Homo sapiens: one gene and its partners. The gene in region 3 interacts genetically with the main gene of each other region. Each region holds a gene or a part of one and is shown on either strand. Other genes may lie near its edges.

Region 1 (3,500 bases), on a different chromosome or scaffold from region 3:
CAGAGGCACAAGAATGTAGGGCCTTCCTTTGATCACCATACTCTCAGTCAATCCAAGACTGCCTGATATTCTTACCCTAGACAACAAGCCAACCCTTTTAAGGAAAAGATCTTACTCCAGAACTCAGAAACTTGGAGCATATATGAAAAAGGAGACTCAGAAGATGACCAAGTAATATACGGAACTAGGCTGCAAAGAAAGGCATCTCTTGGGGAGATTATTCTGCCACCTTCTTCTTCATTCATTCTGCTTACACTAACTATATCCTTTCATCCACTTCTAAGTGTGAAAACATGAAACAGCACGATTCAGGAACGTGTTCCTATAGATCGGAGACCTTGTTTCTGCCCAACAGTTCAGTAAGGACAGCTGGCCTGTCCTCCCATCAGCATTGCCACCTATGTCCTCACAAAAGCTGTACTCCATCCTTCCTATTCCTTAGAACCACCACCAAAGCTACTTACACTACCCTTAGCCATTCTTCACATATGAAGTTCAGGGAGAAAGCAATTAGTTACTTGGCACATCACTTTTGAAATGTGGATGACCTCTGTTCAAAGAATGCTTTTCTTTTGCTCTGCCCTCAGTAGAGATTAGACATTATAGAACCTGCCTACAGGAACATGATTAGCCTAAACTTGCTCACCAACCATGACAGAATCAGATATGTTTTCCTCTAACAAAGCTTTCTCATGAGAGAATGCCAAACTCGAGCACTTGACAAAGCAGAGGTGGACTCTGTCCAGCCAAAGTCTCAGCTTAGAATTAAGGTTCTTCCAAAGACCTGGGGCCTAATCTCATCACAATATTTTTTCCCCACAGTTAAAATCATCATACTTCATTATTTCCCAAATCTTACCAGTACCTCCTTGATGCCTTCTTTTTTCCATATCTCTTTATGAAAGCATAGAGTTTGGCATACCCTAAATCATCGGCTAGCCTAAGCAAAGATCTACTGTTAACTATTTCCAAAAAGCCCCTCTGGAGAATCGGTAGAGTACTAGCTGCTCTTCTTGAGAAAGTAAGGTAAGGCTGGACGTGGTGGCTCACGCCTGTAATCCCAGCACTTTGGGAGGCCAAGGCAGGTGGATCACGAAGTCAGGAGTTCGAGACCAGCCTGGCCAACATGGTGAAACCCTGTCTCTACTAAAAATATAAAAATTAGCCGGGCGTGGTGGCATGTGCCTGTAATCCCAGCTATTCGGGAGGCTGAGACAGGAGAACTGCTTGAACCCGGGAGACAGAGGTTACAATGAGCCAAGATCGTGCCACTGCACTCCAGCCTGGGTGACAGAGTAAGACTCTGTCTCCAAAAAGAAAAAAAAAAAAAAAGAAAAAGAAAAGGTAAGGTTAAAAGCCAAACACTGAACCTAGAACAGCATCAGATTAGTATTATCTTATTACCATGACATTACAGAGCATCTAAGAAGCAGAGGAAACTCAAGCAAAGGAAAAGGATGGATATCAGAAGACATGAGACGCACCAAAAGTCAGGCACACAAATATCACACTTTTCACCCCCATAAACTACACTGTCCCAGGGTCATTCATACATAAGAATCATCAGTCCAACAAGAGGCTTTCTCAACATATATGACGAATAAATTATTTCAAGGAGACTACAAGTCAACAGGAAATATTCGGTCCTGGTCACAGGATCTAGAGGGGTGTGGACCACAACCCTTCCATTTAGCTCTGAACAATGTGACCAGGTAAGGCTGCACAAGGTGATACCCACAGGAAGTGAACAGTCAGTGAACCTGGGAGATGTGTTCCCACTAGATGGCTTAAGGCAGAAACACAGTACCTTATCTAAAAACAGGGAAGACAGCTGGGCGTGGTGGCTTACGTTTGTAATCCTAGCACTTTGAGAGGCCGAGGCAAGTGGATCACCTGAGGTCAGGAGTTCGAGACCAGCCTGGCCAACATGGCAAAATCCCATCTCTACTAAAAATACAAAAAATTAGCCAGGTGTGGTGGTGGGTGCCTGTATCCCAGCTACTCAGGAGGCTGAGGCACGAGAATCACTTGAACCTGGGAGGCAGAGGTTGCAGTGAGCTGAGATTGTGCCATTGCACTCCAGCCTGGGTAACAAGAGCCAAACTCCAGCTCAAAAATAAAAAAGAAAAAAAATAAGGCCAGGTACGGTGGCTCACACCTGTAATCCCAGCATTTGGGAGGCTGAGGCGGGTGGATCACCTGAGGCCAGGAGTTTGAGACCAGCCTGGCCAACATGGTGAAACCCCATCTCTAATAAAAATACAAAACATTAGCCGGGTGTGGTGGCACATGCCTGTAATCCCAGCTACTTGGGAGGCTGAGGCAGGAGAATCACTTGAACCTGGGAGGCGGAGGTTACAGTAAGCTGAGATTGTGCCATTGCACTCCAGCCTGGGTAACAAGAGCAAAATTCCATCTCAAAAAATATTAAAAATAAGGCCAGAGGTGGTGGCTCATGCCTGTAATGTCAGCACTTTGGGAAGCCGAGATGGGTGAATCATTTGAGGTCAGGAGTTCGAGACCAGCCTGGCCAACATGGTGTAACACTGTCTCTACTAAAAATACAAAAAATGCCGGGCATGGTGGCGGGAGCCTGTAATCACAGCTACTCTGGAGGCTGAGGCAGGAGAATTGCTTGAATCTGGGAGGCGGAGGTTGCAGTGAGCCGAGATTGTGCCACTGCACTCCAGCCTGGGCAACAGAGCGAGACTGTCTCAAAAAATAAATAAATAAATAAATAATAAAATAAGTAAAATAAAATAAAAAAACAGGGAAGGGGCCGGGCGTGGTGGCTGAAGCCTGTAATCCCAGCATTTTGGGAGGCCAAGGCTGGTGGATCATTTGAGGTCAGCAGTTCTTCAAGACCTTCCTGGCCACTGGTAAAACCCCATCTCTACTAAAAATACAAACAGTGGCCAGGTGTGGTGGCTCACGCCTGTAATCTCAGCATTTTGGGAGTCCGAGGTGGGTGGATCACTTGAGGTTGGGAGTTCAAGACCAGCCTGACCAACATGGAGAAACCCCATCTCTACTAAAGATACAAAATTAGCAGGGTATGGTGGTGCATGCCTGTAATCCCAGTTATTCGGGAGGCTGAGGCAGGAGAATCACTTGAACCCAGGAGATGGAGGTTGTGGTGAGCCGAGATCGTGCCACTGCACTACAGCCTGGGCAACAAGAGTAAAACTCTGTCTCAAAAAAAAAAAAAAAAAAAAATACAGGCCAGGCACGGTAGCTCACGCCTATAATCCCAGCACTTTGGGAGGCTGAGGCGGGCAGATCACAAGGTCAGGAGTTCAAGACCAGCCTGGCCAAGATGGTGAAACCCCCATCTCTACTAAAAAGACAAAAAAATTAGCTGGTGTGGTGGTGGATGCCTGTAATCCTAGCTACTCAGGAGGCTGAGGCAGAGAACTGCTTGAACCTGGAAGGTGGAGGTTGCAGCCAAGAGGGTGCCACTGCACTCCAGCCTGGGCGACAGAGAGAGACTCTATCTCAAA
Region 2 (3,500 bases), on a different chromosome or scaffold from region 3:
AAGATCTTGCCACTGAACTCCCGCTGGGGTGACAGAGCGAGACCGCCATCTCAAAACCAAAAAAACAAAACAAATGGAATCAGCACAATAGCTGTAGAAAGATGCTATTAGAAAGGATGGGGGGAAATGGAAAATAAGTGGCAGATAAAGTACCCATACTAAAAAGATGTCTTTAGCTTGGTTGAAAAATAATTGTCAGTCCTACCACTGTGAGTTCAAAGAACTTAAGAAAATACAGAACTTCAAGCAGAGATATAGAGGATTGGGTAAAATAAGGCATGGCAAAGAGAAAATATAACATCAGCTGGCAGAGCACACAGGAAAGTAGTGGAAGAGAAAACTAAAATTATCACAGGATTAAAAGCCACATTGGAAACAGAATAAAGGCTGGGCACAGTGGTTCACTCCTGTAATCCCAGCTACTTGGGACACTGAGGCAGGAGACTTACTTGAACCTGGGAAGAGGAGGTTGCAGTGAGCCGAGATCATGTCACTGTACTCCAGCCTGGGTGATGAAGTGAGACTGTCAAAAAAAAAAAGAAAGAAAGAAACAGAATAAAGATGAACACACAGTGCTGAAAACAGTAAAGGTTAGGGAGGACAGATTGAAAAATGAAACTGAAGAAAACAATGAGAACATAATAGATGCAGAAAGTAAAAGAGATCTGACGTAAGTATAATTGGTGTCCCTCAAGAAGAGGACCAAAGAAATGAAACAAACTCAAATATATGGTTAAAGAAGAACTTAGAAGTAAAGATTTGAAGTGATAAGTTCAAATTGGCATGATTTGAACTTGCCAAAGATTTGAAGTGATAAGTTCAAATTGGCATGAAGTGATAAGAAAAATTGGCACTGAACAGTTGGCACTGAAACATTTCCTAGGAAAATTTCTTTTTTAAAAAATTTATCTTATTTTTCGTGTGTTTTGTTTTGTTTTGAGACAGTGTCTCACTCTGTTGCCCAGGCTGGGTGCAGAGGCATGATCCCAGCTCACTGCACTCTTGACCTCCTAGGCTTAATCGATTGTCCCACCTCTGCCTCCCGAGTAGCTGAGACTACAGGTGCACACCACCACGCCCGCTAATTTTTGTATTTCTTGTAGAGGCAGGGTTTTGCCATGTTGCCCAGGCTGGTCTCAAACTGTGGGCTCAAGTGATCCACTAACCTCAGTCTCCCAAAGTGCTGGGACTACAGGCCTGGCACAGAGCCTGGCATCCCTAGGAACATTTCTATGTTTTAAGGATGAAGAAAGAATTATTTGGACACCCAGACAAAATGATCAAGTCCTCTTTAAGAGGGGAAAAGAAATTAGGCTAGCTACATTTGATGACAGAAGGCCATGGAGCAATGTCTAGGAATGTACAAATACTGTAGATTGTGCTGCTATAAATACTTGGGGATATACTTAGGCATATGTAAGGTTTATGTGGAAATAATAATGCTGGGGAACACAAAACAATACTCGAAAAATGGGAAGGTATTCTCTTTTCTTGTATAGTAAAGCTTGGTATCCTAAAGATGTCAGTGTCCCTAAACTTAATGTAATCCCTGTTTAAAATACCACAGTTGTTTTTTCTGGAGACAGGGTCTCGCTCTGTCGCCCAGGCTAGAGTGCAGTAGTGTGAGTATAACTCACTGTAACCTCAAACTCCTGGGCTTAATCAGTAGGTGTCTCACTATGTTGCTCAGACTGGTCTTGAGCTCCTGACCTCAAACAGTCCTCCTGCCTGCCCAACCCAAAGTGCTGGGGTTACAGGCATAGGCCACCATACCTGGCCAAAAATACTCCAGATTTTTAATAATGGTTTTTTAGAACCAGGCAAACTGATTGTTTCTACAGATAAATTTTACAAACATGCACACATTGTCAAAAAACTTCTGAAAAGGTGGACTAATGATGGATATTAAAACATAATGCAAAGATATAATAAATAAGATCGTTTGATACTCTAAGAACTGATGTATAAACAGAGTCTAGAAATGAACTCAGAATACAAAAAGAAATGTAGTCTGTGCTAAAGGTGATAGGAAATGAAGAAAAAATATTTTTAAGGCCAGGCACAGTGGCTCACGCCTGTAATTCCAGCACTTTGGGAGGCGGGGGCAGGCAGATCACGAGGTCAGGAGTTCGAGACCAGCCTGGCCAACATAGTGAAAGCCCGTCTCTACTAAAAATACGAAAAATTAGCCAGGCATGGTGGTGGGCACCTGTAATCCTCGCTACTTGGGAGGCTGAGGCAGGAGAATCACTTGAACCCAGGAGGTGGAGGTTGCAGTGAGCCAAGATTGCATCATTGCACTCCAGCCCGGGTGACAGTGTGAGACCCATATATATATATATATGTATATATATATACATACATATATATACGTATATATATGTATGTATATATATATGTGTATATATATGTATATATATATGTATATATATGTATATATATACGTATATATATATGTGTGTGTATATATATATATATATATTTTTAATAATTGGTATTGAAACCAGAAAAAAAAATTGGATCTCTACCTTAAGCTTTGTACCAGCCGGGTGCAGTGGCTCACACCTGTAATCCCAGCACTTTGGGAGGCTGAGGCGGGTGGATCGCCTAAGGTCAGGAGTTTGAGACCAGTCTGGTCAGCATGGTGAAACCCTGTCTCTACTAAAAATGCAAAAAGTAGCCGGGCATGGTGGCAGGTGCCTGTAATCCCAGCTACTCGGGAAGCTGAGGCAGGAGAATCGCTTGAACCCAGGAGGCAGAGATTGCAGTGAGCCGAGATGGCACCATTGCACTCCAGCCTGGGCAACAGAGTGGGACTCCGTCTCAAAGAAAAAAAAACCTTGTACCAGAATTCCAGATAAATGGAAGAATGTAAACATATAACTGTAAAACACGGGAGAATCTTGGTGTGAGAAAGCCATGAAAGTAGAAGTAAACTATATAAAAATAAAATCTCTGTAACAAAACCAAAGTCAAAAGATAAGTGACAAACTGAAAAAATACATGTAATGTCCTAGACAAAGAACAAATCCCTTAATAACTGCATATAAAGATCTGCAAATCACCAGGAGACCAGTCACCCAGTAGAAAAAGAGAAATAGATAGGAAGAGTTTCCAGAAAGGATATGTAAATGATTCTTGAACGTATGAAGAACTGAACCTCATAAGAAAAAAAAAAAATGGAGTTTCAGCTAGATTAGGAAAAATAAAAAACCGTGGTAATCTACTGTGTGTGTGTGTATACACGTATGTGTAGCTTTCCCATGCAGTTGCTATCAAAATTTAAATTGGCATTATTTTCCACCTGGTAGTTCCGCTAGTGGTAATTCATCCTACAGCTATACTCATGTGGTTGAAATGACTAAAGTGCAAGGATATTCATTTTAGCATTATTTGTAAAAGAAAAATATGAAAATATTATTATTAGGGAAATTGTTGAATAAATTATGCTACCTCCATGCAGCTGTTAAAAGAATGAGCTAGCTTTTCATATACTGATA
Region 3 (3,500 bases):
GGCATCTGTATTATTTACCCTAAAAATCATTCAGAAATAACTTGTGAAGGGTGCTTCTGCATATCCCATTATTGTTCCACTGTCATTATGCTTTTAAAATGAAAGAAAATAGAAAACCTATGTAGGTATTCAGTGCTTGGCTCTTGCATACAATGGTAACTGAAACTCTTAAAACTGTGGTAATGAATCATGAACCCCTCAAAAGGCTCAACAAAGGAGAGAAGGAAGTTGTTTTGGTTAGGAAAGTCAGCAGTTCCAACTGTTCATGTACCAGTAACTGCGGAACAGTGTACAGAAGATACTCCTGTCTTTGCTGCCTAGTCAGTCGTATTTTCTGAGGCTTTTAGGAAATCCACAAATATGAATATATATAGTATGTATCTATATCCATCATAAATATGAGGTCAGGATTCAGCAGATGTATCAACTATAGGTTGCTTTGGTGGTGTTGCCAACACAGCCTCTGCTTCTTCATGCATCTAGGGAAAAAATGGTGTATCATCAATTACTTTTATAAAAACAGATGATATAACATATTTATATAAATATCTAATTTTTTTTTTTTTTTGAGATAGGGTCTTGCTCAGTCTTCCCAGGATGCAGCACAATGTTGCCATCTTTGTTCATTGCAACCTCTGAGTCCTGGGTTCATATGATCCTCCCACCTCAGCCTCCCAAGTAGCTGGGAATACAGGCAGATGACACCAACCTCGGCTAATTAAAAAAAAAAAAAAACTGTGTTGACACGGTCTCACTATGTTGCCCAGGCTGGTCTTGAATTCCTGGGCTCAAGCAATTCTCCCGCGCTGACCCCACAAAGTGCTGGGATTGTAGGCATGAGTCACCACACCCAGCTATAATCTGTATTTTAATTCAATTCAAACACAGAATTATTCTTGGAAGATAAATTTGAGAAGTACTAATCATACTTACTTGTAGAAACTGTACATCTTGAAATAATTCTTGTATGAACCTCCGACACGGAAGTCTGAATGTGCAGTGTGACAGCAAATGGGAAACCTCAGAGTAAAGGCATATGTCATCAAATGTTTGAGGATACTTCTCCTTAATTCTAAAATAAAAGATTATGGTGTGATGAAAACTGTAATCATGATGTATCTATTTTTCCTCCAAGGTATCACTTACTTTAAAAATAGATTTCCCTACAGATATGGATTAGATGGCATACTTGGGGTGATGACTTGAGAATATAAAATATTAAATATTCCTGTCACACACTTAGACATTCTGAGTTTGGGTTTTTTTTTAAAAAAAATGATTATCAAAACCTGAATACTTCTTGTAAAATTGAAGCATTCTTTTTTATTGGCATGAGAAATTGCAAAATATATTTATCAGCCTAGGATGATTAAAATATGTTCCAAATTAAGTTTTAAAATAGAAATACATCTTTAAAGTTAAGTTATTAACATCCCTGACTGGGCTATTTCTTTGGATACTTCAAATAGCAGCTTTTAGCTAGGAAAGCACCTCAGAATCAGCTGTGAGTTGGGTGAGTGACCAGTTAAGGGCCCGCTCCCAGAGCTCCCAGCCCAGAGGTCTGCTGTGGGACCCTGATACCTATGTGGGACCCCAATACCTATATCACCCTTAAAAAAAAGCCCTACAGCTGGCTGGGCACGGTGGCTCATGCCTGTAATCCCAGCACTTTGGGAGGCTGAGACAGGAGATCACCTGAGGTCAGGAGTTTGAGACCAACCTGGCTAACCTGGCGAAACTCTGTTTCTACTAAAAATACAAAAATTAGCTAGGTGTGGTGGTACACACCTGTAATCCCAGCTACTTGGGAGGCTGAGGCAGGAGGATTGCTTGAACCCGGGAGGCAGAGGTTGCAGTGAGCCGAGATTGCACCACTGCACTCCAGCCTGGGTGACAGAGCAAGACTCCGTCTCAAAAAAGAAATACAAAATACAAAATAAAAAAGCCCTGCAGGAGACCCTGAGGTGCATTTCTTTTAAGAACCACTGCTTTAAATAATAAGAAAAAAATTAAACCAAGAAAATATGACTTGTTACATGTAAGCCCACTTTCCTCAAACTTTTTGGTCTCAGGACTTACTTTCTTAAAAATTACTGAAGACCCAAAAAAGCTTATTTTTGTGTGGGTTACAGCCACCATTAACTACTATATTAGAAATTAAAATTGAGAGAATTTCCTAACATGCATTAATTTATTTTAAAAATAAATCCATTACATGTTAACATGTATTTTAATAAAAATAACTGTATTTTCCAAAAGTAAAAAAGTGAGAAGAGTGGCATTATTTTACATTTTTTGCAGATCTCTTCAAAAGTCTGGCTTAATAGAAGATAGCTGGATTCTCATACTTGCTTCTACATTCAATCTGTTGCCATATGTTGTTTTGGCTGAAGTATTAAAGAAAATCTAGCCTCACACAGGTATGCAATGCAGTTTAGAACTACTGATGTAAGTTAACTAGCCTAACTTTTGAAGTATTTCAAGTATCTTTTCTCGACTTAAAAAACAGAATAAACAAATAATACTCATGCACATAGTTTACTCACGTTAAAAGCCCAGTCTCATGACATTTAGTTGAAACTGAACTACTCAAATTAATGACTAATCTTAGAACTTCTTTGCGAAGGAGTATACGGCACATTGGTGTATCATCTGGAATTGTTTTAACACCTGAAAAGATTTCAGGGAGAAGTTAAATATTATCTATGTCACAATAAAATGATTAAAACTCATGAAATTTATTTTTAAACTTCACCTAAAGACCTAGAGATCAATTACACATGATCTACCAATCATTTTGGGAGCAAAACTCTAATAAAAGCAGATAGCTAAGAGGCTCTATGTCAGTGGGTGATATAGGTGCAATAATTAACAGTGTTAAATTGCTTCACTAAAATGGACGTATTACTGTTTTGAGACAACTTTAATTTACAGTATTTACGAAAAACAAAACAAAACCAACTAATCAGAACAGTTTTACTAATAATGATTGGATTTGAATCTGAAGACTCACCTAGTAACAATTCTGTGCTTTTGGTGCTGCTAGCTGAGCCTTCTTGAGACACCCCATCACTGCATCCAGAAATCCCCGAAAACTTAGAGGGAACCACTTCTAAAGGATTATGGATAGTCTGCTCACACCAATCAGAATATGGAATATCTTGAAAGTCTGAAGAAAAAAATAATTATTTCAATTAAAGCACCATAACGGCTTAATTCCTGTGCTTACATTGCATGCTAAAAAGAAATAATATAAAATAACATCTTCTCTAATTGTATGCAATATACCAAACACTTCCAAAACTTTTTTCCTCATAGAAAATGAAAATAACTACAGCATGCAAAGGGCCTGGACAGGGCTGTTCACAGTGGAAAAGACCTAATCCAGGGATCTGTCAGACTCAGGCCCCACTGTGACCTGGAACCGTGAGAGGATCAGCATCTCAGCATAACATAATTTGGCATATCAGTGTGCTGCAGCTCACCAGCTGGGAAACTCT
Region 4 (3,500 bases), on a different chromosome or scaffold from region 3:
CACTCACGCTCATGGCAGCCACATCATTCTCATAGGCCTCCCGAACTTTCTTCATTATTTCCTGCTCGGCCCTGCAACAATTCTCGATGGCCCCCTTCACAGTGATGGTCCTCTCAGGGTTGTAAAGGGTAAGGTCTTGCAACCTGGCAGAAAGAGCAGAGTTGTGTCCTTTCACTGGCAGGCCAGGACCAGGCCCCGGCAGTAACAAAGACGAGAGGCCAGCTGAGTCACAGGCCCACCATTTCTGCAGCCTATTCAACTTCTGGCAAATAACTCTGCAACCCCAGTCTTTGGTGTTCCCAGTTTGTAACCAGGGCAGGGGGTAAGATGGAGGGAGATGCCAACACCTAACTCAAACTCCTCTGTTAGCAATGGATCCAATCTCAGATTATGGTTGTGCCTCCAAGTTTCCCCATTGATTCTACATAATCCATGTCCTATACCTTTTTGGACAAGAGCAATTACTTTGCCCACAGGTTAGTCTCTGATGAAACGAAGCACACTGCTTGCAGGAGCAGCCCACCACAGACAGAAAAGGGCCAAGGTCACTTCTCACAGTGACAGACAAGCCTAAAGCCCTGAATCCCTGGCTCCTAGCTGCAGGCTGTCCACGAGCCACAGGGAAAGAGGGCTGTGAAGTGGTTGGACGTGGACTGTAGAGGCAGCACCTTACAACACCCCTGCCCCATATGGCAGTGGGAATGGGCAGATCCAGTCCTTACAGGGATTTTTTAAATGCTCTTTACCACTTCGACTGTTTTTCTTCAAGAGGCAGAAGGAGCACCCATTTTAAAAGAGCACATATCAAGGTTCCATGATGAAATACTGACCCTGGCCCCCATGCATCCCCCACTCATAAACAGGGAAATAGAAGAGAGCCTTACGAGGAGATGGTGATTTTTGTCTCGGTATCTTGCTCTACCTTCTTCAGGTTCCGTCCTTCCTTGCCAATGAGACGCCCTACAAAGTTATTATGGGCCAGGATCTTCAGGGGAACCTCGTCAGCCCTTGGGAAGACAAAGGAAGAAGTGGAAGACAAGAGTTCCTTCAATTGTGGGCTTCATGAAGACTCAATCACCATGCCACCCCAGACTTGGCATTTCCAAGTAAAACATCTCAAAACTTATCAAACTGCATACTTTAAAAATATGTATGATTTATTATACATCAATTGAACATCAATAAAGCCAATTTGTTTTATTTTTTGAGACAGGGTCTCACTCTATCACCCAGGCTGGAATGCAGTGGCACTATCAAGGCTCACCACAGCCTTGACCTCCTGGGCTCATGCGATCCTCCCTTCTCAGCCTTCCGAGTAGCTGGGACTATACGCACAGGCCGCCACGTCCAGCTGATTTTTCTATTTTCTGTAGAGGTGAGGTTTCACTATGTTGCCCAGGCTGGTCTAGAACTCCTAGCCTCCAAAGTGCTGGGATTAGAGGCATGAGCCACCGTGCCCAGCCAATAAAGCTATTTTAAACAGCACAAGTGTGTAAAGGAACATGTGTAAGCAGATTCCTTGCATCACTGTTTTCTGATAAGGAAAAGTTTAAAACAATTTAAACACCCATCAAGAAATAGGAGATTGATTACATGAACTATGAATAGCTATACTGTGGAATTCTATGCAGCTATAAAAATAATGCGGTCTGTCCATATGTACTAATATATGTGCTGATACAGAAAATGAAAAAAGTATAGAACAGCCTGTTCAGTGTGATTCTCTCTGAGCTAAAACACATGTGCATACACGCACAAGTGAATACACACAGGCACACATATCCGTACATGCAGGCACGCAGACACAATATACACACACCTGTGAGTGCACAGAATTTCTAGGAGGTCATACGACAGGAATAAGAAGGGATGGGGTGTGGTGGCACACGCCTGTAATCCCAGCTCTTTGGGAGGCTGAGCTGGGTGGGTCACTTGAGTCCAGGAGTTCAAGACCAGCCTGGGTAACATGGCGACACCCCATCTCTACAAAAATCACAAAAAACTAGGCAGGCGTGGTGGTGCATGCATGTTGTCCTAGCTACTCAGAAGGCTGAGGCGGGAGGATCCCTTGAGATCCAGAGGCAGAGGTTGCAGTGAGCTGAGATCATGCCACTGTACTCCAGCCTAGGTGACAAAGTCCTGTAAGAAGAAAGATTTTATTTCTCAGTTTACATCTTTTTGTGCAATTGCTGACTGTATTTCTTATATGTCTGTATAAAAGCTTGAAAGTTGAGTTGGGGAGGCTCAACTGGACTAGCAGACCCTGAAGATCCAAGAAAAGCTGGAGACTTACGTTTTGGTGTCCTTAGCCTCTTTATGCATAATCTCCAAGATCATCTTACAAGCGGAGGAGCAGCCCTCAGGGGTGGAGTGCACACTGATGGCTTTTTCAGCTGCACCTGCGTTCTCCTTCCTATGCACGTCTATCCTGGGGGCCACAAGGACAAGGCTGGTTAGTTGTCCCCAGTGATACCAGTACTTCAGGCTCCCCACCCCACTACCCCTCCTCAGTCAAAGGCATAGAACCTGCTCTTCTTGAAACAAGGACAATCAAGTACAACTTTGGGAAGGGCAATGAAAGGACTGGAGAAATATGACCCGTCTGTTACTGTGGATTCTGTCTCAGACCAGCAGTGTCTCAATCCACAGGTGGTTGGTGGCCAGGCACGGGAGCTCACGCCTGTAATTCCAGCACTTTTGGAGGCCGAGGCGGGTGGGTTACTTGAGGCCAGGAGTTTGAGACCAGCCTGGCCAGCATGGTGAAACCCCGCCTCTACTAAAAATACAAAAAATTTAGCTGGGTGTGGTGGTGCACACCTGTAATCCCAGCTACTAAGGAGGCTGAGGCACAAGAATTGCTTGAACCTGGGAGGAGGCTGCAGTGAGCTGAGATCACACCACTACACTCCAGCCTGGGTGACGCAGTGAGACTCTGCCTCAAAAAATAAAATAAAAATAAATAAATAAGCAAGCAGTGGTTGGGGACAAGAACACAGCCTATGACACAAATGCAGGGGTGGGAATTACCAGCCCACAGCTCCAAAGCTGCATTTCCGCTTGAATTCCGTATGTCCCCCTTGAAACAAATATAAAGAGAAGACACAGTGCCCCAAACTCAAAGTAAATAACAAGATTTACTATGATAAGGACATAATATGACCTGTTCTTTGCCACTGAGTACACTGATCAGATATAAAGATTAGAGAAAAGGCCGGGTGTGGTAGCTCACGCCTTTAATCCCAGCACTTTGGGAGGCTGAGGCGGCCGGATCACGAGGTCAGGAGTTCGTAACCAGCCTGATCAACATGGTGAAACCCTGTCTCTACTAAAAATACAAAAATTAGCTGGGCATGGTGGCACGCGCCTGTAATCCCAGCTACTCGGGAGGCTGAGGCAGGAGAATTGCTTGAACCCGGGAGGCAGAGGTTGCAGTGAGCTGAGATCGCACCACTGCACTCCAGCCTGGGCAACAGAGCAAAACTCTGTCTCAAAAAAAAAAA

What was found. A genetic interaction does not mean that the proteins touch.
Region 1: changes in RICTOR (region 3) and SEC24C together harm fitness less than expected from each alone (positive genetic interaction), as found in Homo sapiens cells (one large-scale study listed by BioGRID).
Region 2: changes in RICTOR (region 3) and DCAF7 together harm fitness less than expected from each alone (positive genetic interaction), as found in Homo sapiens cells (one large-scale study listed by BioGRID).
Region 4: changes in RICTOR (region 3) and IGF2BP1 together harm fitness less than expected from each alone (positive genetic interaction), as found in Homo sapiens cells (one large-scale study listed by BioGRID).

Annotation. Positions count from the first base shown.
Region 1 is NC_000010.11:73,747,372-73,750,871, reverse strand, and holds part of SEC24C (protein transport protein Sec24C), read right to left. Parts: intron 1-3,500. UniProt on the Homo sapiens protein: Component of the coat protein complex II (COPII) which promotes the formation of transport vesicles from the endoplasmic reticulum (ER).
Region 2 is NC_000017.11:63,556,977-63,560,476, forward strand, and holds part of DCAF7 (DDB1- and CUL4-associated factor 7), read left to right. Parts: intron 1-3,500. UniProt on the Homo sapiens protein: Involved in craniofacial development. Acts upstream of the EDN1 pathway and is required for formation of the upper jaw equivalent, the palatoquadrate. The activity required for EDN1 pathway function differs between the first and second arches.
Region 3 is NC_000005.10:38,941,900-38,945,399, forward strand, and holds part of RICTOR (rapamycin-insensitive companion of mTOR), read right to left. Parts: exon of another isoform or gene 3,170-3,500; coding exon 3,014-3,169; exon of another isoform or gene 2,671-3,013; coding exon 2,547-2,670; exon of another isoform or gene 2,335-2,546; coding exon of another isoform or gene 2,302-2,334; intron 1,073-2,301; coding exon 934-1,072; intron 480-933; coding exon 405-479; 3' UTR 1-404. UniProt on the Homo sapiens protein: Component of the mechanistic target of rapamycin complex 2 (mTORC2), which transduces signals from growth factors to pathways involved in proliferation, cytoskeletal organization, lipogenesis and anabolic output.
Region 4 is NC_000017.11:49,038,885-49,042,384, reverse strand, and holds part of IGF2BP1 (insulin-like growth factor 2 mRNA-binding protein 1), read right to left. Parts: intron 2,429-3,500; coding exon 2,294-2,428; intron 1,008-2,293; coding exon 885-1,007; intron 144-884; coding exon 8-143; intron 1-7. UniProt on the Homo sapiens protein: RNA-binding factor that recruits target transcripts to cytoplasmic protein-RNA complexes (mRNPs). This transcript 'caging' into mRNPs allows mRNA transport and transient storage.